Linked DNA regions of Homo sapiens: region 2 is linked to region 1. The links come from fine-mapping of genetic effects on gene expression. Tissue or cell type: prefrontal cortex. Region 1 holds a variant in brackets; the other region holds the start of a gene. All regions are shown on one strand. Distances are between the middles of the regions.

What was found.
Region 2: it holds the start of BRPF3-AS1, and the variant in region 1 is fine-mapped to the expression of BRPF3-AS1 in prefrontal cortex (CommonMind, PIP 0.95).

What each region holds. Positions count from the first base shown.
Region 1 is chr6:36,169,281-36,181,284 of GRCh38, forward strand. It overlaps BRPF3-AS1 (BRPF3 antisense RNA 1), which reads right to left. Exons shown (of 3, transcript NR_187147.1): 2 at 10,337-10,427. Among named protein-coding and RNA genes, the nearest start is that of BRPF3, 21 kb to the right of the region's middle. The variant T/C (reference allele first, on the strand shown) is at 7,901.
Region 2 is chr6:36,188,901-36,200,803 of GRCh38, forward strand. It overlaps BRPF3-AS1 (BRPF3 antisense RNA 1), which reads right to left and starts at 8,303. Exons shown (of 3, transcript NR_187147.1): 1 at 7,137-8,303. It overlaps BRPF3 (bromodomain and PHD finger containing 3), which reads left to right and starts at 7,844. Exons shown (of 13, transcript NM_015695.3): 1 at 7,844-8,070; 2 at 11,397-11,903. The coding sequence starts at 11,423. RefSeq lists a silencer at 7,459-8,198 and an enhancer at 8,549-8,598.

The DNA of each region.
Region 1 (12,004 bases):
CCTAGTTCACTTTCCAGTAATACTTTTTTGGGAACATTTTGTGTTTCTCATTTTCTCAGGTCCCCCAGGCACACCATCTTTCCTCTGCTTCCTCTCACACAGGTGCTGATACTGTGTAGGTTTGGGGCTGTTGTTCTGGCCCACTCCCTGATATTTTCTGGGTTTGTCACCTAGTTTTCTTAAAAGTATCATCTACATGGTTTTGGTTTCACTATCTATTCTGTCTTTATTTGAACACTAGGGGAAATTCATTATGCCAATCTCACACATTGTGTGATTCCATTTATATAACCTTCTTGAAATGACAAAACTATAGAGATGAAAATCAGATTAGTGTTGCTAGGGCTTAGGGATGTTGAGCAGGGCAGTAATGAGGAAGAGCGTTATGGTGATAGAATAGTTCTGTATGTTGAGTGCAGTGGTGGTTATATGAATCTATACATGTGATAAAATGGTGCACACCATTTTATTTTTTACCAATGTCAAATTCCTGGTTTTGACACTGTACTGTAAGTATGTAAGATGTAACCACTGGGGGAAACTGGATGAAGGGTACACCAGACCTCTCTGTACTATCTTTGCAATTTTCTGTGAATCTATAATTATTTCAAAATTTAAAAAATGTTTAAAACGGGAATGAAGTATTGATACATGCAATAACATGGATGAGCCTTGAAAACAGTATGCTACATGAGAGAAGCCAGGCACAAAAGACCACATATTGTATGATGCAGCTTACATGAAATCAGAATAGGCAGATCTAGAGACAGAAAGCAGATTAGAGATTGCCTAGAATGGGAGATGGAGTCAGGGAGAGGGCAGAGTAGGAAGTGAGTGCTAATGGGGATGAGGCCTTTTCTAAAATTCTAAAATTAGATAGTCAGGTTGATTGCTCAACTCTGTGATGCTAAAAAGTCACTGAACTGTATATTTTAAATGGGTGGATTTTGTGGTATGTAAGTTATATAACAACTCAATAAAGTTGCTTTAAACCATTAAAAATAGTACCCGGATGTAATGGCTCACCTCTATAATCCTAGCACTTTGGGAAGCCAAGGAGGGAGGACTGCTTGAGCCCAGGAATTGGAGACCGCTTTGGGCAACATAGTGAGACCCTGTCTTTATAAAAAATAATTTTTTTAATTAGCCAGGCATGGTGGTGCATGTAGTCCCAGCTATTCAGGAGGCTGAGGCAGAGGATCACTTGAGCCTAGGTGTCCAGGCTGCAGTGAGTCATAATCGCACCACTGCAATCCAGCCTAGGCAACAGAGTGATACCCTGTCCCAAAAAGTTTTTTGTAATACTGTCCATACCAAGTATTGGTGAGGATGTAGAAAAGTTAGAACTCTCATGCACTGTTGATGGGAATGTAAAAATGGTAAAACTGCTTTGGAAAACAATTTGGAAGTTTCTTAAAGAAAAAAAAAATTGAGCATAAACCTGCCATATGATTCAGCCATTCCACTGCTAGGAATTTATCCAAGAGAAAGGAAACATATGCCCATAAAGACTTGTTCTCAAACATTCATAGCAGCTTTATTTGTAATGGTCAAAAAATGAAAACAATCAAAATGTGCATCCACAGGTGAATGCATAAACTGTGGTATAACCGTACAATGGAATACTACTAAGCGATGAAAAGGAATTAACTACTGACACATGTCATGATATGGATGAATCTCAAAGTAATTATACTCAGTGAAATAAGCCAGACAAAATAGTAATACTATATCATTTCATTTGAATATCATTGGTTACCAGGCAGGGAGGCAGAGGAATAAAAAAAAAAAAGGAATTACAAACTTTTGGAGCAAGCTTTTGGAGGTGACTGTATGTTCATAATCTTGATTGTGATGGTTTCATGGGTATATACATATGTCAAAGCTTATAAATTATATACTTTAAACATGTGCAGATGATTTTATACCAAGTATACCTCAATAAAGCTGCTTTAAAAAAACTATGCTACCATCATCTTCCTAAAATCAGCAATCATGTTTTTAATTATCAAGAATTATTTCTTGTTCTTTGTTAGTTTCACAATATTATAATTCTTTTTTAAATTAAAAAAAGCTGTATCTTTGAGAATATGAATTATTTGTTGTTTCTAACCTATTTCCTGAATTGTCTCTGGTGTCAGATTTTTTTCTTTCTTTTTTTTTTTAATTTTGATTTTCCAGTTGTATGCTATAGACCTTTCTCAATGTCTGGTGATCTTTGGCTTTCTACTCATATTGTGAAAATAGAAAAGAAGACATCTCACTGAGGACCCTGTACATGGGAGGCCTATATTGCTTTGGGTAAAGTGCAGGAATCTTACTTTACAATGAAGTTCTCAAATTCCAGAATGAGGAGGGCTTTAGGTGAGGTGCCGACATCACACTAGCTGCCTCCAGACTTTGTGTTCTATTCTTTTTAGAAAAATATTCTGTGCTGTCTGTGCTAGGACTTGGGTAGAAGGGGCTGTTATTTCAACTACCCTCCTGTGTTTAGCCTCAACATTCACTTCCACTTTCATTACCCACTGAAGAAGTCTCTCTCTCCTCCCTTATCTGATGAAGCTGTCTCTCCCTTGTTCGAAAACATATCTATCCCCTTTCCTTGTAAGAGGAAGACAATCCTCTCTAACTAAAGACAAATCCCAGTAAGCTTTTAGAGATATAAGTTCAAGTCAAACCTAGGAAAAGCTTTACACACAAAAATAAATATAGGGATATTGCCCATTTATAGCAGAACTGGATTCTGTGTCTGCCCACCAAATGAGGAGGAACATAGTTTTAGTTTGGGACTGAATTTACTGATGCGGATGTCCTTATGATTTTGGACTCATTATACTAGCAGCAGGGAATAGTTCTAACAATTTGCTCAGCTGGTTAACCAAAACCCAGAACCACCTGGTGTTCACTTGACAATGGAACACACTAAGTTGAGGTGCCAGAAGTTTCTTGAAATAATGCAGAAGTACATAGGAAGCTCCTTCCCTTAGCATTTATGAGCCCGTGGATCCAATGGTGTTCCATAAATGAGTGGCAATTGTGAATGCGATAGGAAATCTGTGACAGTCCTCAATAGGAATTGCAGTGGAGGCCCCTAAAGTAATGGAGCAAAGCCGCTGCCTCATAAGCAAGTGATTATTTTCATTTTGGAAAACTGCTCTAGCCTTGCTCTGGGGATCTGGGGGAGTCCAAGTGCTAAGATCAAAACTGCCCACTGTGAGTTGTCTCAGCTACCTAGCTATGAAGTTGGGCATTCTATGCAACATTTTAACATGAGCTATAAGAGGTATAAAATACAGAATGAGGCTCCAGCCATAGCTGAAGATACAATAAGCTGTCTGAATATAAGTAACACATGCTCCCACCATGCCTAGTCTGGCAGCTTGCCTTAGAGAATAGCAGAATGCCCTGCTGAAGAGCCAGCTGTGCCTCCAATTGGGACAACACCTCATGAGGTTGGGGCACTGGCATGCAGGATATATTATATGTTCTGAATCATGAACCAATGTATGCGTATGTGTGGCTTCTCCTGTAATTAGAATGTACAGGTATGGAAACAATGGGGTGGAAATGGGATAGTATCTTTCATGATTAAGTCTAATGTGTTTGTTACTCATCAAATTATTGCTTCTCCTCTCCATGACTTGGGGCTCTGCTGACTTGGCATTTGGGGATCCAAGAGATAACTGCTTCTATAAGAAGACAAAACAATGTTTCCACTGCTGGTCATTTTGGGCTCTTATACCACAGGCAAAAAAAAAAATAAAGAAGGTCATGATGTTGACTGGGATGACTGGTCCTGAATAATCTTGATCATCATGGGAAAGAAGGCTGCTGCTTCAAAGTGGGGATGTGGAAATCTTAAAAATTTTGATATAGAGTCTCACTCTCTCACCCAGGCTGGAGTGCAGTGGCACTATCATGGCTCACTATAGCCTTGACCTCGGGATAGGAAAATCTTAATAGAACTCAGGTCTGCTATTCTGGAGCAGGTCTTAAACAACCATATCCAACGGAAAAAGTTAATGGAAGACTGCTATATCCCTGAAGACAGATTTACCAAGGAAGTAATTCTTATGAGGTGAGTTTGGTAAGAAACTCCAACTTACTGAGTTCTTTTGTGAAGGCAAAGGGAACATGACACAAATTACAGAGAGGAAAATTTATACATGTCAACCACAGCCCCATAAGCAATTACAGAATAGGGACTGTCACCTCTACCCATATTTCTTTCCTCGTTGGGTATATATTTATACATTTTAATGAATTTTAAAATTCCTCATCCCCACTTGTACCATTTATATTTGGTGTGCAAAAGTGGTTAATTATACAATTTCTTTTTTTCTTTTTAAAAATATCAGGTTTACTGAGGCCTAATTTTCTTTTTTAACAGGGTCTCACTCTGTTGCCCAGGCTGGAGTGCAGTGGTGCAATCTTGGCTCACTGCAACATCTGCCTCCTGGGTTCAAGCGATTCTTGTGCCTCAGTCTCCCAAGTAGCTCGGATTACCAGTGCCTGCCACCACGCCTGGCTATTTTTGTATTTTTAGTAGAAACGGAGTTTCACCATGTTGGCCAGGCTGGTCTTGAACTGACCTCAGGTGATCAGCCTCACAAAGTGCTGGGATTACAGGCATGAGCCACCGCACCTGGCCAAATTTTTTTCAAATATTTTAAATCAGCAATTGATTGAATCTGAAGATTCAGAACCTCAGAGGGAAACTATGTTGTTCAGAAGACTTACAGATTTGATTAGCTCAAGACATTTTAAAGTATGCATGGTGAAATTTTAATGGTAACCACGAAATAATAAAATTAGAATGTATAATTTCCAAACCAATAGAGAGAAGATATATGCAAAAGAAAGAAAAGAAAGGAAGAATGGGGGGGAAGGAGGGAGGGAGGGAGGGAGGGAGGGAGGGAGAGAGGGAAGGAAGGAAGGAAAGAAAGATTGGCAAAAATCTAAAATGAGACAAGAAATGTGTATATGCGTGTGGTGGGGGGAATATAATGAAAAGGGGACAAAGCACAAAGCAAGGTGATGGAAATAAGGCCAAATATATCATAATTACAATAAAGTTAATGACCTAAAAGTGCCATTTAGGACAGAGATACTTAAATTTGAAATAAAAACAAAGTCCATTAATATACTGTACAATAGGCTCACTTAAAACATAAGTCAACAGGTTGAAAGCAAAAAGATGAAAAAGACTAATCCAGACAAATACTAACAAAAGAAAGCTGAGGTAGTTATATTAATATTAGAGAAAATGGATTTTAAGACAAAAACATTATTAGGAAGGAAGAAGTTTGTTATATAATTTTAAAAATAGGGGGTTATAAGTACACAAAAAAATTGGTTAAAAAAATAAAAAAGATTTGAATAACACAATTAATTTGTTTTGTTTTATTTTTGGAGGTAGGGTCTCACTCTGTCGCCTAGGCTGGAGTGCCATGGTGCGATCTCGGCTCACTGCAATCTCTACCTCCTGGGTTCCAGTGATTCTTCCACCTCAGCCTCCCCAGTAGCTGGACTACAGGCATGTGCCACCATGCTTAGCTAATTTTTATATTTTTTGGTAGAGACAGGGTTTCACTATGTTGGCCAGGCTGGCAGGATTAGTTTTTGATCACACAATAGAACACAATAGAACATCTAAAAATTAGGGAATATTCATTCTTTTCAAGCACATGTGGAACATTTATAAAAATTAAATACTAGTCCATAAAGTGTCAGCAAATTTCAAATAACTGCTATAATAATAGCATTCTCTGACTACACTAGAATTAAATGAGATGTTAATAATCAAGAAAAAGGCTGTCTGTGCTGGCTCACACCTGTAATCCCAGCACTTTGGGAGGCTGAGGTGGGCGAATCACCTGAGGTCAGGAGTTCAAGACCAGCCTTGCCAACATGGTGAAACCCTGTCTCTACTAAAAATACAAAAATTAGCCAGGCGTGGTGGCAAGTGCCTGTAATCCCAGCTACGTGGGAGGCTGAGACATGAGAATTACTTGAACCTGGGAGGCGGAGGTTGCAGTGAGCCGAGATCGTGCCACTGCACTCCAGCCTGGGCAACACAGCGAGACTCCATAGGAAAGAAAGAAAAGAAAGAAAAGAAAGAAAGAAAGAAGGAAAGAAAGAAGGAAGGAAGGAAGGGAGGAAGGGAAAGAAGAAAGAAAGAAAGAAAGGAAGGAAGGAAAGAAAAGAAAGGAACTCTCCATGTATTTATAAATTTAAAAACACACTTCTAAAAATGTCAATACTCCCCAGATTGATATATAAGTTAAATAAAATTTCTACTAAAATCTCAGCAAGGTTTTATGTAGAATACACAAAATTAGTCCCCAAATTTATGTGAAAAGACAAATAGAATAGCCAAAATAATTTGGAAAAAAGAATAAAGTGGGGGAACCAGTCTTCCCAATTTCAAGATTTTTATAGAGCTACACTAATCATGACTGTGTGGTATTGGCAGAGGGAGAGATACAGATCAATATAACAGGATAGAGAACTCAGAAATAGACCTACACAAAAATGTCTAACTGATTTTTGACAAAGGTGCAAAAGCAATTCAATGACGAAAAGATAGCCTTTTCAACATACGGCACTGGAGTAATTGAAGATCCATATGCAAAACAAACAAACAAAAACACATGAACTTTGAAGTAAGTCTCATACTTTCTACAAATATTAACTCAAAATAGATCACAGACTTAAGTGTAAAGAACAAGACTATAAAACTTTTAGGAAAAAAAATAGGAGAAAATATTTGAGACCTAGCACTAGCAACAATTTCTTAGACTTGACACCAAAACATAATTCATAAAAGGAGAGATTGATAAATTGGACTCTATAAAAAATTAAAAAACTGTTGCTTTCTCAGAAACCCTGTTGACAAGATAAAAAGAAAGGCTAAAAACTGAAGAAAACCACATATCCAACAAAGGATTAGTATCCAGAATATACTCTCAAAAGAACCCTCAAAACTCAACAGTAAAAAATAATCCAATTAGATGCCAAATGAGCACATATAAAGATGTTTAATATCATTAGCCATTAGGGAAATGCAAATTAAAGCCACAATAAAATATTAGCATATACTCTCTCTAGTTAAAATAAAAAATTTTGACAACATCAAATGCTGGCAAGTATGCAGAGAAACCAAATCATTCATATATTGCTGGTGGGAATGTAAAATAGTAGAGCTGAATTGAAAAACAGATTGGCAGTTTCTTAAAAAAAAACAAACTAAATGAAGTATGACTCAACAATTACACTTCTAGGCATCTATCTCAGAGAAAGACAGACTTATATTCATATAATAACCTGTATATGAATATTCACAGCAGCTTTATCCATAAATCCTTAAACTAGAAACAACTCAGATGTTCTTCAGTGGGTGAATAAAGAGTGGTACATCCATATTATGGATTATTCCTTAGCAATAATAACAAATTATTGATAAAGGCAATGATCTGGATAAACCCCCAGGGAATCATGCTGAGTGAAAAAAATCCCAAAAGGCTATATACTGCATGGTTCCATTTATACAATTCTTGAGATAACAAAATTATAGAAATAGAGAACAGATTAGTGGTTGCCAGGGCCTAAGACAGTAATAGGAAGGAAATGCACGTGGCTGTAAAAGAACAACACAAGAGATCCTTGTGGTGATGGAATTGTTCTGTATCTTGACTGTATTAATGTCAATATGATTGGAACTGCATTCAGAATGGTGGAGTAAAAATCGCCAAAAATTGATTTCTTCAGAAAAGCAATGAGAGCACTGGCAAAAAATTGTTAAAATCAACATTTTTAGAACTCTGAAAATTAACCAAAGGCTCACAAAAGTCTGAGGAGCATTTTCACACACACACACACACACACACACACACACACA[T/C]GGCTAAATCTCATAAGAAGAGCAAGACTGGTGGCATTTTAACTTGTCCTATTGCCATCCCTCTTTCTGTAGTTCCATAGTAGCCTTGGAAACCAACAACCTTCAATCATGGTAACCCTGAAAACCAGCAACCTAGCAGTCACTGAAGCAGGCAGAATGGGCTTGGAGTTCCCCTAAATGCTCATCTTCCATTAGTTATTCTTTGACTTGTCTGGCAGTTTCCTGGAAACCACAGGGGCTCTCAGGGTTGGTCTTTATTGGAACTGACTCAGGGTTCATTTACTGTGAACAGCCTTTTCTTTGGAGTATTTATGGAAAACAATTAGTGGCAATTGTTTAACATCTCAGGTGCCTGAGGTGATAACATTTGGGGGAAAAAAAGATTATAAGGAAAAACTGAGGAATAAGATTTTTTTTTTGACATGGAGTCTTGCTCTGTTGCCCAGGCTGGAGTGCAGTGGCACGACCCTGGCTCACTGCAAACCTCTGCCTCCTGGGTTCAAGTGATTCTCCTGCCTCAGCCTCCTGAGTAGCTATGATTACAGGCATGTAGCACCATGCCCGGCTAATTACTGTATTTTTAGTAGAGATGGGGTTTCACCATGTTGACCAGGCTGGTCTCGAACTCCTGGCCTCAAATTATCCGCCCACCTCGGCTTCCCAAAGTGCTGAGATTACAAGCATGAGCCACCTTGCCCAGCTGGATTAAGAAGTTTATAAGTGTGTTTGGAAAGCTTAATCAGATTTCCCGGAAATGTAGATGACCACATGCATGTACAGGTGACCACATGCATGTACAGGCTGTATCCCTGCCCAGAACTATGTGCGTACCCAGGAAAGGTTTGAGAAGACCTTAATCTCTAACCACTGGCAGACCTTGAGGTTCTGCACAAGCAGAAAGTAAAGACTAAAGCAGAGTTGTCTAGTGTGTGGTACAGCTTTATGGATATGTCCCAACACACACACACAGACCTTTGGCAAAGGCTGGGAGACTTATCAATTCAAAGCATTTAAGAAAATATCTGTCCATTTATTACCTGATCACTAAGCTAAGAAAGCAGAGGCTATAGTGGCCAAACGTTACAAAGAATACAGACTTTACAGAATTAATTTAGGAAAGTAACTAGACAAACAGGAGCAACAGCAATTGCAAGAATAAATTCTGGGGAAGAGGGGGAATCTGATTTCCAGAGTTGCCACATTTTATTATTTAAAACATCTAGTTTTCAATAAAAGTGTATAAGATATGCAGAGAAACAGGAAAAATAACCTATACACCGTGGGGGCTGGGTGGGGGGAAGCAATGAATAGAAACTGTCAGGAAGCCCTGATGTTGGATTTACTAGACAAAGACTTTAAATAGGATAGTATAAATGTGTTCAAACAATTAAAGAAAACTATATCTAGAGAACTAAAGAAGAGCATGAGAATAATGTCTCACTAGAAAATATTGATACAAAGATACAATTATAAATGAGGACCAAACAGAAATTCCAGAGTTGAAAAGTACAATAACTGAAATGAAAAATTCACTAGAGGAGCTCAATAGTAGATTCAAGCTAGCAGAAAGAAATATCAGCAAACTGGAAGAAAGGTCAATTGAGATGCCCCAATATGAAAAACAGAGAGAAAAAGAATAAAGAAAATGAAGAGTTTCAGAGATCTGTGAAACACCATGAAGTGTACTATCATACATATAAAATAAATCAAAGAAGCAGAGGGGAGAGACCTAAAAAGAATACTGGAAGAAAAAAAGGCCAAAACTCCCCAAATTTGTGAAAAACATTAATCTACACATTTTAGAAGCTCAGCAGACTCAAAATACGAGAAACTCAAAAAGATTTGCACCTAGACACATTATAATCAAATTGTTGAAAGCGAAGGACAAACAGAATCTTGAAAGCAGTGAGAGAGAAGTAATTCATCACATATAAGGGATCCTCGGTAAAACTAACAGCTGATTTCTCATTAATGTCAGTATCTTGATTGTGATATTTTCTATAGTTTTACAAATAGGAGAAATTTTACAAATTGGGAGGAAACTGGGTAAAGTGTACACAGGATCTCTTTCTATTATTTCTTACAGCTGCATGTGAATCTATAATTATCTCAAAATTTAATTAAACATACTCCTGAAACAATACTTCAATCCAAGATGAAATTGTAATAAAAGTGTAAAAAATATTTAGAAATGAACAATAATAAAAATACTGTGTATCAAGACTTGGGAAACAAAATAGTAGTGGTAATTCAAGGTAAACTTATATAGTCTTGTATGCTTATATTAGAAATTAAAACCTGAAAATGACATAATTAAGCACCCAACCGATGACAGTAGAAAATAAAGAATGAACTCAAAGAAAGTAAAAGGAAGCACATAAAAATTATTAAAGCAACAATCAAGAAAATACAATAGCCACGCACAGTAGTGTGTACCTGTAGTCCTGACTACTTGGGAGGCTGAGGTGAGAGGACCATTGGAGCCCAGAAATTTGAGTCCAGTCTGGATAACACAGTGAGATACCACCTATAAAAACAAAATAAAATGAGATATTTTTAAAAAGTATTTTAAAAAGTACAATAGAGGGGATCAACAAATTCAAAGCTTGTTACATAGGGAAGAAACTAATAAAATTGACAAACTACAGGGGGCAGGGGGAGGGGAGAAGAGAGAGGGAGAAAAAATATTAGTAATGCAAAGGGGGACATAACTACAGAAGGATCAGAGATGAAAAAAAAAGTTTTTTAAAACTTAGATGAACAAAATCCTAGGAAAACATACTTCAAGAAGAAATAAGTCCTATGACCAGTAAAGAAATTGAAGTTAATAAAAATCTTCTTACAATGAAGCCATCAGGATTAAATAATTTATATGATCTGAATGTCCCCTAAAACTCATATTGTTTCAAGTTGAAGCAGTCTCACCAATATAATAGTATTAAGAGGTAGGTAATTCTTCTGTGTCAAAACAGGGGGGATAATAAAACAAAGAGGTAACCCCTTTAGGTAATGATTAATTCATGAAGTGGAGTCCTCATGAATGGGATTAGTGACTTTATAAAAGGGCCCAAAGAACTAGTCAGTTCCTTTTGCCCTTTCATCTCTTCTGCCATGTGAGGACATAGTGTTCATCCCCTGAAAGAGGCAGCAACAAGGCGCTAACTTGAAAGCAGAAACTAGGTCCTCACCAGGCACCAAACCTGCTGGCACCTTGATCTTGGACTTTCCAGCCCCCAGAACTGTGAGAAAATAAATTTCATTTCTTCATAAATTACCCAGTGTCAGGTATTTTGTTACAGCAGCAGAAACACAGTAAGATAGTGAGTTCTACCAACTTTTCAATAAACAGCTTATTCCAATGTTATACAAACTCTTATAGAAAATAGAAAAAGAGAAAATATTCTCGACTCATTTATGAGGTAAATAAAACTTGATTCCCTAAACAATCTAATTATAGACAATCTCACTTTGGAGCCTATATGTAAAAATATTAAAGTATTAGCAAACCAAATCAGTGAGATATTTTAAAAAGGTAATAAATAATGAGAAAGTCAGGCTAATCCAGGGATGCAAGAATGGTTTAATACATATATTTTTTGTAAGCAGAATTTTCCATTGCTAAGAGAATGGTTTAATATTAGGGAAACAATTATTCACATTAAAGATTAAAGGGGTACTTGGTATGGAAAAAAACAAACTCAGTTTCTCCTACTATACCCTCACAACACAGAACACTTCCGTGACTCCAGATGTGTGGGGGTTTATACCCACACATCAAGCAAGCAATCAGTTCTGCAGCAGATAACATCTGAGTGTCTTTTAGTTCTATTTGATTCTGACACTATCCACCCGGAGTTCTCTACCCATAGGTTGAGAGATCAGTCCCACAAGACTCCTCTCCACTTTGGATGCAAGTTGCAAGCATAGATTGTGCTTACATTGTGCAACCTGAGTTTCTGACCAATTGGCTATAAATTGAGGATTCCCATGACTCCCTCCTTGGGTTTGATTAATTTGCTAGAACAGCTCACTCAGCTCAGGGAAACACTTTACTTACATTCATCCATTTATTATAAAAGATATTACAAAGGATATAGATAACAG
Region 2 (11,903 bases), 20 kb after region 1:
TTTTAAATGAAGACAGGGTATTGCTATGTCACCTAGGCTGGTTTGAAACTCCTGGCCTCAAGCGATTCTCCCACTCTGGCCTCCCAAAGTGCTGGAATTATTAGGCATGAACCATCACCCCAGCCAGCTACTCTTTGAGGCTCTTAGAGATTTTTGTTTGTTTGTTAAGACTTCTTTGGTTCTCTATATTGTTTTCCCCATTCTTTTTTCTTGGATTCTGACCTTCATGATACTTTCTTCATATATCTGTTGGTTTTTGGTTGTTTATTCAATGTTAAGAGGTAGTTTTTTTTAAAGCTGTTTAAAACTCTATGTGTGTTGGGGTAGGGGTGGGGAATGCTTGATACCAGGTGAGCTTCAGCATAAGGCAAAAGGTGACAAGCTGGATGTTTTAGTGAAGATGTTCCATCGCCAGTATTCATAAATAGGTCTTTTCTCCATCTTCAGAGAGGAATCATGGTATTCTCTAACATTCTGTAATCCATTGCTTCTCAAATCTTAATATGCATATGAAACATGTAGGGAGATCTTAAAAAGCAGATTCTGGTTTGGTAGGTCTAGAGTGGGGCCTAAAATTCCACATGTTTAACCAACTCCCAGGAGATGTCAATACTATCGGTTCTTGAACAATAATCTAAGTAGCAAGGTTCTGGCTGCGGGTGGTGGCTCACGTCTACGAACCCAGCACATTAGAAGGCCAAGTTGGGAGCACTGCTTGAGCACAGGAGTTCAAGACCGGCCTAGGCAACAAAGTGAGACCCTGTCTCTTAAAAAAAATTATCGAGGCATGATGCTGTGTCCCTGTAGTCCCAGCTACTCAGGAGGCTGAGGTGGGAGGATCGCTTGAGCTTGGGAGGTTGAGGCTGCAGTGAGCTGTGATCACACCACTGCATTCCAGCCTGTGCAACAGAGCAAGACCTCATCTCAAAAAACAAAAACAAACACTAGCAAAATTCTAAAATAAACCTGGCTTCCAGTGTTTTGCAATGTGATTGGGGGAAGAGGCAGGACCACTAAGAATTTTGATCTATGAAACATTTATTTCAACTAAAAGGATGGACTGACTAGAAATGTTTTCATGAAATTTTCTCTTAGCCCCCTTCTGCACCACCAGATTCCAGCAATTTGTACCAGATTTCCCCTCCCTCATCAGTCTAGGGAAGAACATGTGATGGTGATGATTGGGGCTCGGGGGAGCATCTTATTATTTAGTATGCAGAGATTCCCTTTAATTTCCGTTTTCAGTATGACACTTCATCGCTGTCTTCATTGGTTCCTGGTGGCCCCAAGTCTAGAACTTCTTTAGTTCAATTTCTTGAGATAGTAAATCTCACCTGCTGTTGTTTTCCCTCATTCTCTTTGTTCTTGTGGATTTCATTGTCTTGTGGATTTTTTTATCCTTTACTAACATTATTGAAGTTAGGGGAGGGAGTGGGGACCAATGCATGTTGTCAAGCCAGACATTATTTTAACCATGCAATCATTAAACTTTTCCAGAAATGTCCCACTCATTGTGGACTACTCTTTCTACAATGTACAATGTAAATTGTAAATTGAATTTAAATTTGCCATCATTTCATTGTTTTCTATTTGTTTCACCTTTACTATATTTCCTTTTCTTTCCTTGACTTCTTTTAGGTTGGTCGAATTTTTTATTCTTTTTTTACTCTGTACTAGTTTGTGAGTTACATCCTCATTTTTTCATTCTTTTAATGTTAATGATTAGTCTAAAAATTGCAACAGGTATGCTTTATCAACTTAATTGTGGTAAAATTTATGTAAAATAAAAGACAGCTACTCTGTACAGTTTAAGTTTTGGCAAATGTATATATACCTGTTTCTCCACCACTGCCATCAACTTACAGAATGTTTCTATCACTCCAAAAAGTTTCCTCATGCCCTTTATAGTCCCTCCTCCCCTTCACATCCAGGAAGCCACCAATCTGCTATCATTATAGAGCAGTTTGCATTTTCCAGAATTTCATATAAATGGAAACATGTATTTTATTATTATAGGTATTCTGGAGTAATCAAAAGCTAATATTAATCCTTTAACTTTACCTTTTTCTCAGAGTATTTTAATCCTGGAATTCTCTAAAATCCTCTAATTCACTGTTTCTCAACTTTAATATGCATATAAATTACTTATGGAAATCTTGTCAAAATGCAGGTTCTAGTTTAGTATGTGCTATTATTTTTGTGTATTTTCTCTCCCTTTAGTAAAATTATGCCAAGAAGATGGCTACTTTTAGGGTTGGTACTTCTGCTAAAATATGGAATTATATTTTATAGTGTCCTGGCTTCACTCACAGTTAAGAGTTTAGGATTTAATAGAAATCCTAATTAAAGGTTGAAAAGATAAGACATTAGATCAAGTTGAACAATTTATACTTGTCACATACTACTTGCTTTCATGCTTGCTTGGTTTAGCATTCCACTGAGTATATGGTAAAATGTTCTAGCTAGAATTCAAGTTCAGAAGATAATGCAAGCCACACTGGATAGCTAATTTAAACCATACCGTATCACACTCTCTTGCCTGACTAGAACTTAAAGCATGGAACTATTGAAGTCATTTCCCTGTTCCAAAAATCATCAGGGTCTCCTGCCCCTTCATGTCTAGCTCCCTACCCAACCAACAGTCTCCATGCTCTGACTTTACCTTACCAGCCTTCTCTCTCATATCCCTCATTTTTGGGTCAATGGGTAACCCACTGTTTCCTGAAACAATCTTATGGCATTCCATGTGTTAAAGAAAAGACAGCAGACCCCAAATGGAGTCATTCATGCTGAGAGGTTCCATGACACCAAACCAAAACCTGTATTTTACTGTAAGATCTGACTCTTCAAGAAATCAGGAGAGAGATGATAGTCAAATCCCATTAAACCAACAAGATTTCATTTACATTCCTATAAAGAAAAATAATCTTGAAAAGACCAATCTGCTATTTGCTCATTGTTCCTGATTTATTTCACTTCTTTCTGCCTATAAAACTCACCTACTTGTTTAGCTCATAGGAACTCCTTTCTATTTTGTAGACTGGATGTTGCCCAGTTCATAAACAGCTAATAAAGCCAATTGGATCTTTGGGACTCATTTGTTGAAATTTTATTCTTTGATACGTTCTTCCTCTTTGCTCATGCGGGTGGCTCAGCCTGGACCACACTCCCTCTACCATCTTTCTAGCTGACACACCTACCTGAGAGCTTTCAGGTAGAGCTCAGATAGCACTTTCTTCACAGAGCCTTCCCTCTTCTCCTAAACAGACGAGCTCACTCCCTCCTCCAAACTTTGGCACTTCGTTTGCATCTCTCTTGAAGTGCTTATATTGTAGCACGTTCCAGTTATAAATACCCTTGCTTTATACTGTGATTAGAATCTAAATGCCTTCAAGTCTGCAAGCATACTCTTTTCACCTTTGTGGCCTTTACAGCCATAAAATAGAACCTTACCAGCAGCTCACAAATAGTAATTGAATAAATATGTATTTCAGTGTGACCAAAAGAGGTTCCAGAGAACTTGAGCTGATTTCATCATTTCTTCAATCCTCAGGTTCCCACCTCCAATAGGAGCTCCCGAGCAACCCTTTGCCACCTCTTAATTTGCAATGATTGTACCAAACTGTGAGAACCTACAAAGTTTGAACTTAGATTCTTCTTCAATCTTCTCCTTTGTTCTTATGTCCAATCAGACAAAACAGTTGCTTTGTCATCTGATTTCTGATTTGACCTTTCCTTTTCCTCTTTCTCTAACACATTTTCCATCATTCTGCTTAATGCCTTTTTATTTTCATAATGCCTAATTACCTATAGTAAACTCTTCCAGGTTTACCGGATCTCCTGTTCTACTTTCTCCAATACATAAAGAGGATAACAGTAACATTTTATAGAGTTAGTAAGTTGATAAATAAGATATGGTGTGCATATTGGACCTAGTTTGTACATGTACCTACTACCCCATTGTACAATCTTCTCCTGCTCATGTCCTCTGGTTTTAGGAGTTGATACATGACAAGCAGCATGTCCCTCTGGCCACAGTTATTGGCTCAGGATGGCTGAGAAATTGCAAGATACAGTATGCTGATGACATAATTCGAGTCCTTTGACTCGATCTTGTCTATAGCTAGATGCACCCCTGGACTTTCTGGTTATGAGAGTTTATTTCCTTTATTAAACTCACTTAAGTTGGTTTTCTGCTAACTGCAACAAAGATCTTTAATAAATGGAGTATATAAAGCACTAAGCACAGTACCTTGTACATAAGTGTTAGGTATTATTTTTATTATCCCTGTCCCCTTGCCATACCTCCTACCCAATTCAATCTTTTTCTTATCATCTGCCCATACATACCAGCTAGGATAATTTCCGCATTATTCCCTGCATATTTTCCCTTTGCCTGGACTGTCCTGTCACCAACCCAATGTCACTTTACACTCTTTTCACCAGTTCACATCCATCATGATTTAGAACTTGGCTTAAAGAAGTCTCCCATTCTCCAAGAAGCCTTCTTTGAATAATGGTGGCTCCATACTCTTCACTGCCTTATCTATTTTTTCTTGTATGTGTTTTCTACTTATTTCTACCATTCTGGATTGCACACTACTCAAGGCAAGAAAAAATATATTCTATCTATACTTATGATCATTAGTCCCTTTCTAGGTTGAGATTTTGTCATTATTTTCCAAAGAACTTGTGCAGTATTAGACACACTCTAAGTGGTCAATGAATACGTTTTAGAAATACATAAATGGAATTAAATCTAGAGAGTGTGGTATGTTACTCTATTTAAGACCTGTTGTTAACCTAGCTAAACTTTTCCCATTTTCCAAGCAAACTTTACATTCTTAAACCATTTTAATTAGTGTAAAAGTATCGGCCGGGCGCGGTGGCTCACGCCTGTAATCCCAGCACTTTGGGAGGCCGAGGCGGGCGGATCACGAGGTCAGGAGATCGAGACCATCCCGGCTAAAACGGTGAAACCCCGTCTCTACTAAAAATACAAAAAATTAGCTGGGCGTAGTGGCGGGCGCCTGTAGTCCCAGCTACTTGGGAGGCTGAGGCAGGAGAATGGCTTGAACCCGGGAGGCGGAGCTTGCAGTGAGCCGAGATCCCGCCACTGCACTCCAGCCTGGGCGACAGAGCAAGACTCCGTCTCAAAAAAAAAAAAAAAAAAAAAAAAAGTATCACAATGATTCCAACCTCAAACATTCCTCCCAACTGTGGTTTCAGAATTCTTTTAGTCAAGTATCTAAGGAAGGAATATTCTATTAAAAATAATTTAACAATCAATCAAGGCCTATTTTTTTCCTTATCATCCACGTTATTAATCCAGTGGGTACTGCGTCTGACCCCTGAGAGGTTTCTTGGCCTGATAAACTAATGACAATAGTGAAGCATTAACAAAGATATCCTGAGATGCTGAAAAAAAGTATGATGGGGAAGTATGAAAGAAAGAGGTGGGGAAATGGTGATTTTTTTTTGTATTCATGTTTCTTTTAGTTTTAAATGGTAAAACCTTCTCCTATCCCAAATAAGTTGGTTTCTACTTACAGCTGGAAGGTTCTTAAAAACAACTATTTGGAATCAAAGATCCATGCCTCTGTTTGTTGAATTTAATTGCTGTATGGTTTATTGGAAAGGCCAGGGGTGGTGAATTTAAACCGTTTAAAATAGCAAACGATTAAAGTGAATTAAATTTAGTGCCTCTGAGATTTTTGATATATGTTCCAAATTTGTTTTTAATAACATAATTGTTCCATGTTACATTTAAGATTCCATCACAGGGAACTGGTTACGTGTGCAGTTATGCTTGTAGAAACCAATTCCAAATGTCAAAAATTAAAGTGAGGGCAACTGTAATGATATCATTAAAAAAGTAGAAGTTGAAAATGGAAGAGAAACACTTAGGTTGAATAAGGTCTTAATATGAAAGCTTTGAATAGAAAAACCTGAAAAAAATCACATGCATTAGGTTGACTTAAGGCCTTTTCAACAGCATTTAAATCGTTGACTTACAAGTAGAAACCAATGCATTTTCTCAAGGTATTTATTCATTCATTTTAGTGGAAAAAGATAGCTCCTGATCACGCAAATGGGAATTGTGCTAAATAAATTTTGAGAACATCCATCAAGAAATAAAAGTTACTAGTCATATGTATAAATGATTATTATATTTCATGTTTTAATAGTTTCTGTTAGTTTTCAGACTTTTTTTTTCTTAACTACAAGTACTGTAATTGCAATATTTTCTTGCCTCTGGGGCTTTCTCTTCCACAATTAATCATCTTTTTCTTCCACACCTTCCCTCCAAATGATTATTCCCCCTAGCTTCAGAACACTTGACATTAATTCATACTATTTCATCTTCACAGCTTTCAAAACATTGTCCTGCCCTTGCTTAGCTCCACGAGCCACCCCCCTTGCATTTAAAAAATTGGTTAACAGAAGCATTTTTGTACTATCTCTTTGCCAGAAGATGCTATTTACTTGGAAACAAATTAGCTTCCTTAATCAAACTTTTGAATTTGAAACTCTCTATATTTAAATTCCTTAGTATAACATCTATACTTCCAAAGTAGCAGTATGTTCACTTTAAACATTCAGAAAATTTGGATCCTAAGACTTTATCCTTCATCCTTCTGACTCTAGAATACATGTCCTTGATCATCAGAACCAAGAAAGAAATTGAGTCTCACCAGCTACACCACAAGTGCCAGCAGAGGAAACACTTTCAAACTGTCACTCACCTTCACATTTACAGGCAGCTTATCCATACGTCCTTTATAAACATCATTATGTATTGGTGCTTAAGACTTCAGTCACATGAGGTAAGCTTTCCAGTTTACAGGCAAAAGGGGGTGGCAATGGAGCCCTTTTCTTTATTTTTTTGTTTTTTTAGATCAAAACAAAAGCCAGTTTGGTCTGATGCTGCCATTTGTCAAGCATCTTTTAGAAAGCCGCCTAATGCATTAAATTAACCAAGTCAGGTTTAAAGTGTTTCCCATGCCCACAGTGACAGACGAGTTACCAGGCATGCTTAAGCAGACTGTCAAACTTTTGTTTACTCCTTTTAAACGGAAAGTCAGATTTTTTTTTTTTTTTTTTAAAAGATGTGTGGTGCGGAACAAGACGCTCACCTGTACACAACAAAGGCAGGTCTTTCCCGGCTGTCCTCACTGGGGGAGGGGATGGACAATCGCTAGACCTTTGTCCTCAGGTCCTGGGCATGGGGGTTAGGGGAGACGCGACTTTCTGGGAGTCGTGCAGGCACCTGCAGTCAAGAAACTACATATTGGTTTTGACCTCAATGACTGCCCTGGCTTAACCTTTGGAGAGGCCCTTTAGTTCGGGGAGGGGGCTTGCTGCTCCAAACCGTAGCCACGTCACCCACAAGGACTGGGGAGGAAATGACTGACCGCTCAAGAGTCAGGGACCCCTGTCTCTCCCAACTAGACCCGAACGTCCACAGCCCTCTTATCGGGCTCGCCCCGTGGCGGGCAGGGCCGTGGTGCGCAGGGATCGCGGCGGGCGCAGACCCGGTCTCTTGCTCGGTGTCCCCGCCGCGCCCGCACCGCCACCGTGAGGCCGAGCCGGGGATGGTGCCCCGTGGCGGCGGCGGCGGCGCCTCCGCGCTCCTCTCCGCACCGCCCCGGCCGCCGCCGCGCCAGGCACGGGCGGGGGGATTTTTTTCCCGTTTCCCCCTCTTTCGCGCTCTCGCTCCTGTTCAGCGGGAGAGCCCGCAGAGTCAGGGAGGGAGCGAGGGAAGGGGTGGAGGTGGCGGGGGGAGGCCGGAGGGGCGGATCCTGCCTGGGGGCTGATCCCTCCCTCCCCTCGGCCGGGCTCCGTGGCGGCAGCGGCAGCAGCGGCGGCTCCATTCCCCCTCCTCCCCCGGGAGCGGCGGCGGCGGCCGGGCCGGGGCCCCAGCGCGGGCCGGGAGGGGGCACGGCGGAGGCCACGGAGGCAGGCGCGGGAGAAGACCGCGCTCCGCTTCCCGGGCCGCGCCGACCTGCTCGGCGGCCTGCCCGCCCGCGCCCAGGGGCCCCGAACGGTGGGGCCGGGCAGGCGGCTGAGGTAATGGGGGCGGCAGCGGGGCCGGACAGAGCGGGGGCGGGGGCATCGGGGCCTTCGGGGACCAGGGACTGCACGGGGGGAAACCGGAGAAGCGGGGGGCTTTCCGAGCAGGGCGGGGGCGGTGCGAAAGCTCTCTCCTGGAGCGAGGGCGGCGGCAGGGAAGGAGAAGGCGGGTGAGCGGGGGAGCTGAGAAGCGAGGACCCCCTCCCGCAGCCGCCATCTTGTCTCCCCCCCCAGCCCTGGATTCCGAGCCGCTAAGCCCCGCCCCCGCCACGCCTTCCAATTGGCCTGGCCAGACGAGAGTCCCGCCCCTTGAGCGGCCCTAGGTCCCCTGGGTCCCTCTGACGGGCAGGTGACGCAGCCAATGGGTTCTCGCCTCTCCGCCCCGCTCATTCGCTGGCGCTCGCTTTCTCTGTCTGAGGGTCGGACTCCACGTCAGGCTGTCTCTGGTGCGCTCGCCCCTCCCCTCTGAGGAGATGTTATTTCCCTCCTTTCTTCTCCGAGGGGTCAAGATTCTTCTGGAAGAGGTGCCCCCTTAAAGGAGCAGGAGCCTTGGCTGGGGTCCTCCTTGTCTCCTGAGTATCTTGTGTGAGGTGCAGGGGATACAGTCTAATTGCAGAAGCTCCTCATTCTTCGGGGACCTGGATGGGGTGGGTGAGCGAGGGGTCAGGGGGTGCCGAGGGGAAATCTGGGGGGGCGGGGGTTGTTGGAGATATTTTGGAGGTGTGTATGTGGGAAGGGCTGTGTAGGTTGAGAAACTCCCGCCAAAAAACTCGTCTAGACTGTAAGCTCCTTGTGGGCGAAACTCTTTTCATTTCCCTCATCAGCAGTCCCTTCCCCCTCTAGAGTTTCTCCCCGGTGTCTGGAGGCGTGGGTGGGACAAAACACGTCTGTGTAGAGTCTTGCATGGTCGAGAGATGCTTGAGCAGCCGAGGAGGTGGCAGGTGGGGAAGGAGAAGATGGAGCGGCTTTCATGAAAGTGGGCGCCGCACCGCCTGTCTGCGCTGTTTGGGGTCGGTGTGGAGGCAGATGTTCTCACCTCTTCTAGGGCCTCGGTGCCTTTGGAGGGGTGGGTGATGAAGCAGGTCTGTTGGCCCTGTCTGCCCCCAGGGACTTGGCATTTGTAAGGAATCCAGTAGCCAAGGGCCTCTGGAACCCGGACAGAATTGCTGCGATGATTCTGTTTCCTTTGGCTCCAAATGGGGTGTGTGCCAGCCCGCCTGGCACTGCTCCTCAGCCAAATTGGTTTTTTGTTTGTTTCAGTCACACTTTGGGATTGGAAGGCCTTTCAAGTAAAGATGTTAATAATACCTTATTAACAAGTAGCACCTAGAGAGCTAGATTGTGTTACCCTCATTTTACTGATGGAGTATGGAGGCATAGAGAGCTTAAGGGACTTTCTCTAGGTCACAGAGGGCCAAGATTAGAACCTAGATTGCCCCAGAGCCTCGTTTTGTACCAGACCATAGCACCTCTGTGGTGTTCTTAATTCCCACTGAGAGGAATTGAGCATCGGAAGACCTGGGTTCAAATTGTAGCGTTATCACTTACTAGCTTTACGTTGAGTGACATCTTTCTGAGCTTCTGTGTAGATGATAATAGCTACACCATCTCCTAAGGTAGTTGTGAGAAATATTAAAAGTAAGAGGGCTTTGTAGTTTGGAAAAAGTGCTTTTATTATCACCGTCTCTACTTTATATAGATGGTAGACCCTGCAACCAAGGCGATGAATTGTTTTTCTCTTTGAAATCTTCTCTTTGTTCATATCCTTCCAAGTCTGCCCACACCATGGGGCCCTGTATCCCCAAAGGTCTCTCCTGGTGGTGACAGCCTTGGTAACTGCCTACCGCAGCTCCTTATGAGCTTGTCATCCAGAGAATGATGGGGGAAACTAGGACTTTCTCTTGGCTGTACAAGGATAGACTAGATATGAGTGTTCTGGGAGAGACTTTTGAGGTAACAGAATGCATTGAGAGTTTACCTCAGATACTGCCCAGATCATCTTGGCCTTCGGTCGAATGAAGGTCCTAGACAGGCCACTATAACTTCAGAGATCTCTTGGAGCCACTCTCAGAGCTTCTAGGGTTTGTTTCTGCCTGGAAATGTACTAGTTGGTGTATCCTGGATCAGGGGTTCCCAACCCCCAGGCCGCAGACTGTGGCCTGTTAAGAACCAGGCCATACAGCAAGAGGTGAGTGGCGGGCAAGCGAGCATTACCACCTGAGCTCTGCCTCCTGTCAGATCAGCGGCTGCTTTGGATTCTCATAGGAGCGCGAACCCTACTGTGAACTGCGCATGTGAGGGATCTAGGTTGCATGCTCCTTATGAGAATCTGACTAATGCCTGATGATCTGAGGTGGAACAGTGTTCACCACCCACCCTCATCTGTGGAAAAATTGTCTTCCACGAAACCAGTCCCTGGTGCCAAAAAGGCTGGGGACTGCTGTCCTGGATGGTGTCTTTTGTAGGGAATACCCTGCATACTGTAGTTTGAAGCCCTTAGACCATGTATCATAGATATTTCAGATGCCTTCACCCCTTCACCTCTAGGCAGGGTCAAGGAGTAGGGTTTCTGATCGTGGTAAGAGGTATTGGGAGAAGACTCTAGTGACTTTTGATCCTCTGATGGGGCCCATTGTTCACGTACAGAGCTTGACAGTGGATGCTTTTCTTGTTTTCTTTTCTAAACCGTTAACTACATGTGTTTTCCATAGTTAGCTGTCGCCCAGCTTTATGTACATCATTAGAACATTAGATCTTTCCCCATGTTACACTGTAATAATCTGTTTACTTTTCTGTCTTTTGAGTTAGACAGGGCTCCTTGAGGGCAGGGATCATGTGTGTTTGATTTCTTCTTTCATTCAACTAATACTTATTGAGTGGTTACTTAGGAGCTAAGCACTGCTCCAGGAACTGGGGATGCAGCAGTGAACAAGACAAACAAAAATTCTTCCCCTCATGGAGCTTATATTCTAGTGGAAGGAAGGAAACAATAAACATAGTAGTAGGTAAATTATGTAGCATGGTATAAGATGATGAATGTTAAAGGGAAAAATAAAGCAGAATGAAAGGTAGATTGCTGGTGGAGGAAAAGGATTTGCAATTTTAGATAAAGTGGTCAGAGAAGGTCTCACTGAGAAGTGTTGTTCACTTGAAGAAATGAAAGACTCAAAGGAAGTGAAGGAGCAAGCCATGTGGATGCCTGAGGGGCAAGTTGTTCAGACAGAGGGAAAAGCCAGTCCTCTTGGTGGATGCTTGATCATATGGGAGGATGAATGGGTGCATAAGGGCATCCAACTCATAGTCTCCTGGCCTTCTCTCCTTAGGCCTGTCCCCTCAGTTCCCAGGTGCCATGAGGAAGCCTCGTCGGAAGTCCCGGCAGAATGCCGAGGGCCGGCGTTCCCCGTCCCCCTACAGTCTCAAGTGCTCACCCACCCGGGAGACCCTGACATATGCCCAGGCCCAGCGGATTGTCGAGGTAGACATTGATGGACGCCTGCATCGTATCAGCATCTATGACCCACTCAAAATCATTACTGAAGATGAGCTAACTGCCCAGGATATCACCGAATGCAATAGTAACAAGGAAAACAGTGAACAGCCTCAGTTCCCTGGCAAGTCCAAGAAACCCTCATCCAAGGGCAAAAAGAAGGAATCCTGCTCCAAGCATGCATCTGGTACTTCCTTCCACCTCCCACAGCCCAGCTTCCGTATGGTGGACTCAGGCATCCAGCCAGAAGCACCCCCGCTGCCTGCTGCCTACTACCGCTACATTGAGAAGCCACCTGAAGACCTGGATGCAGAGGTAGAGTATGACATGGATGAGGAGGACC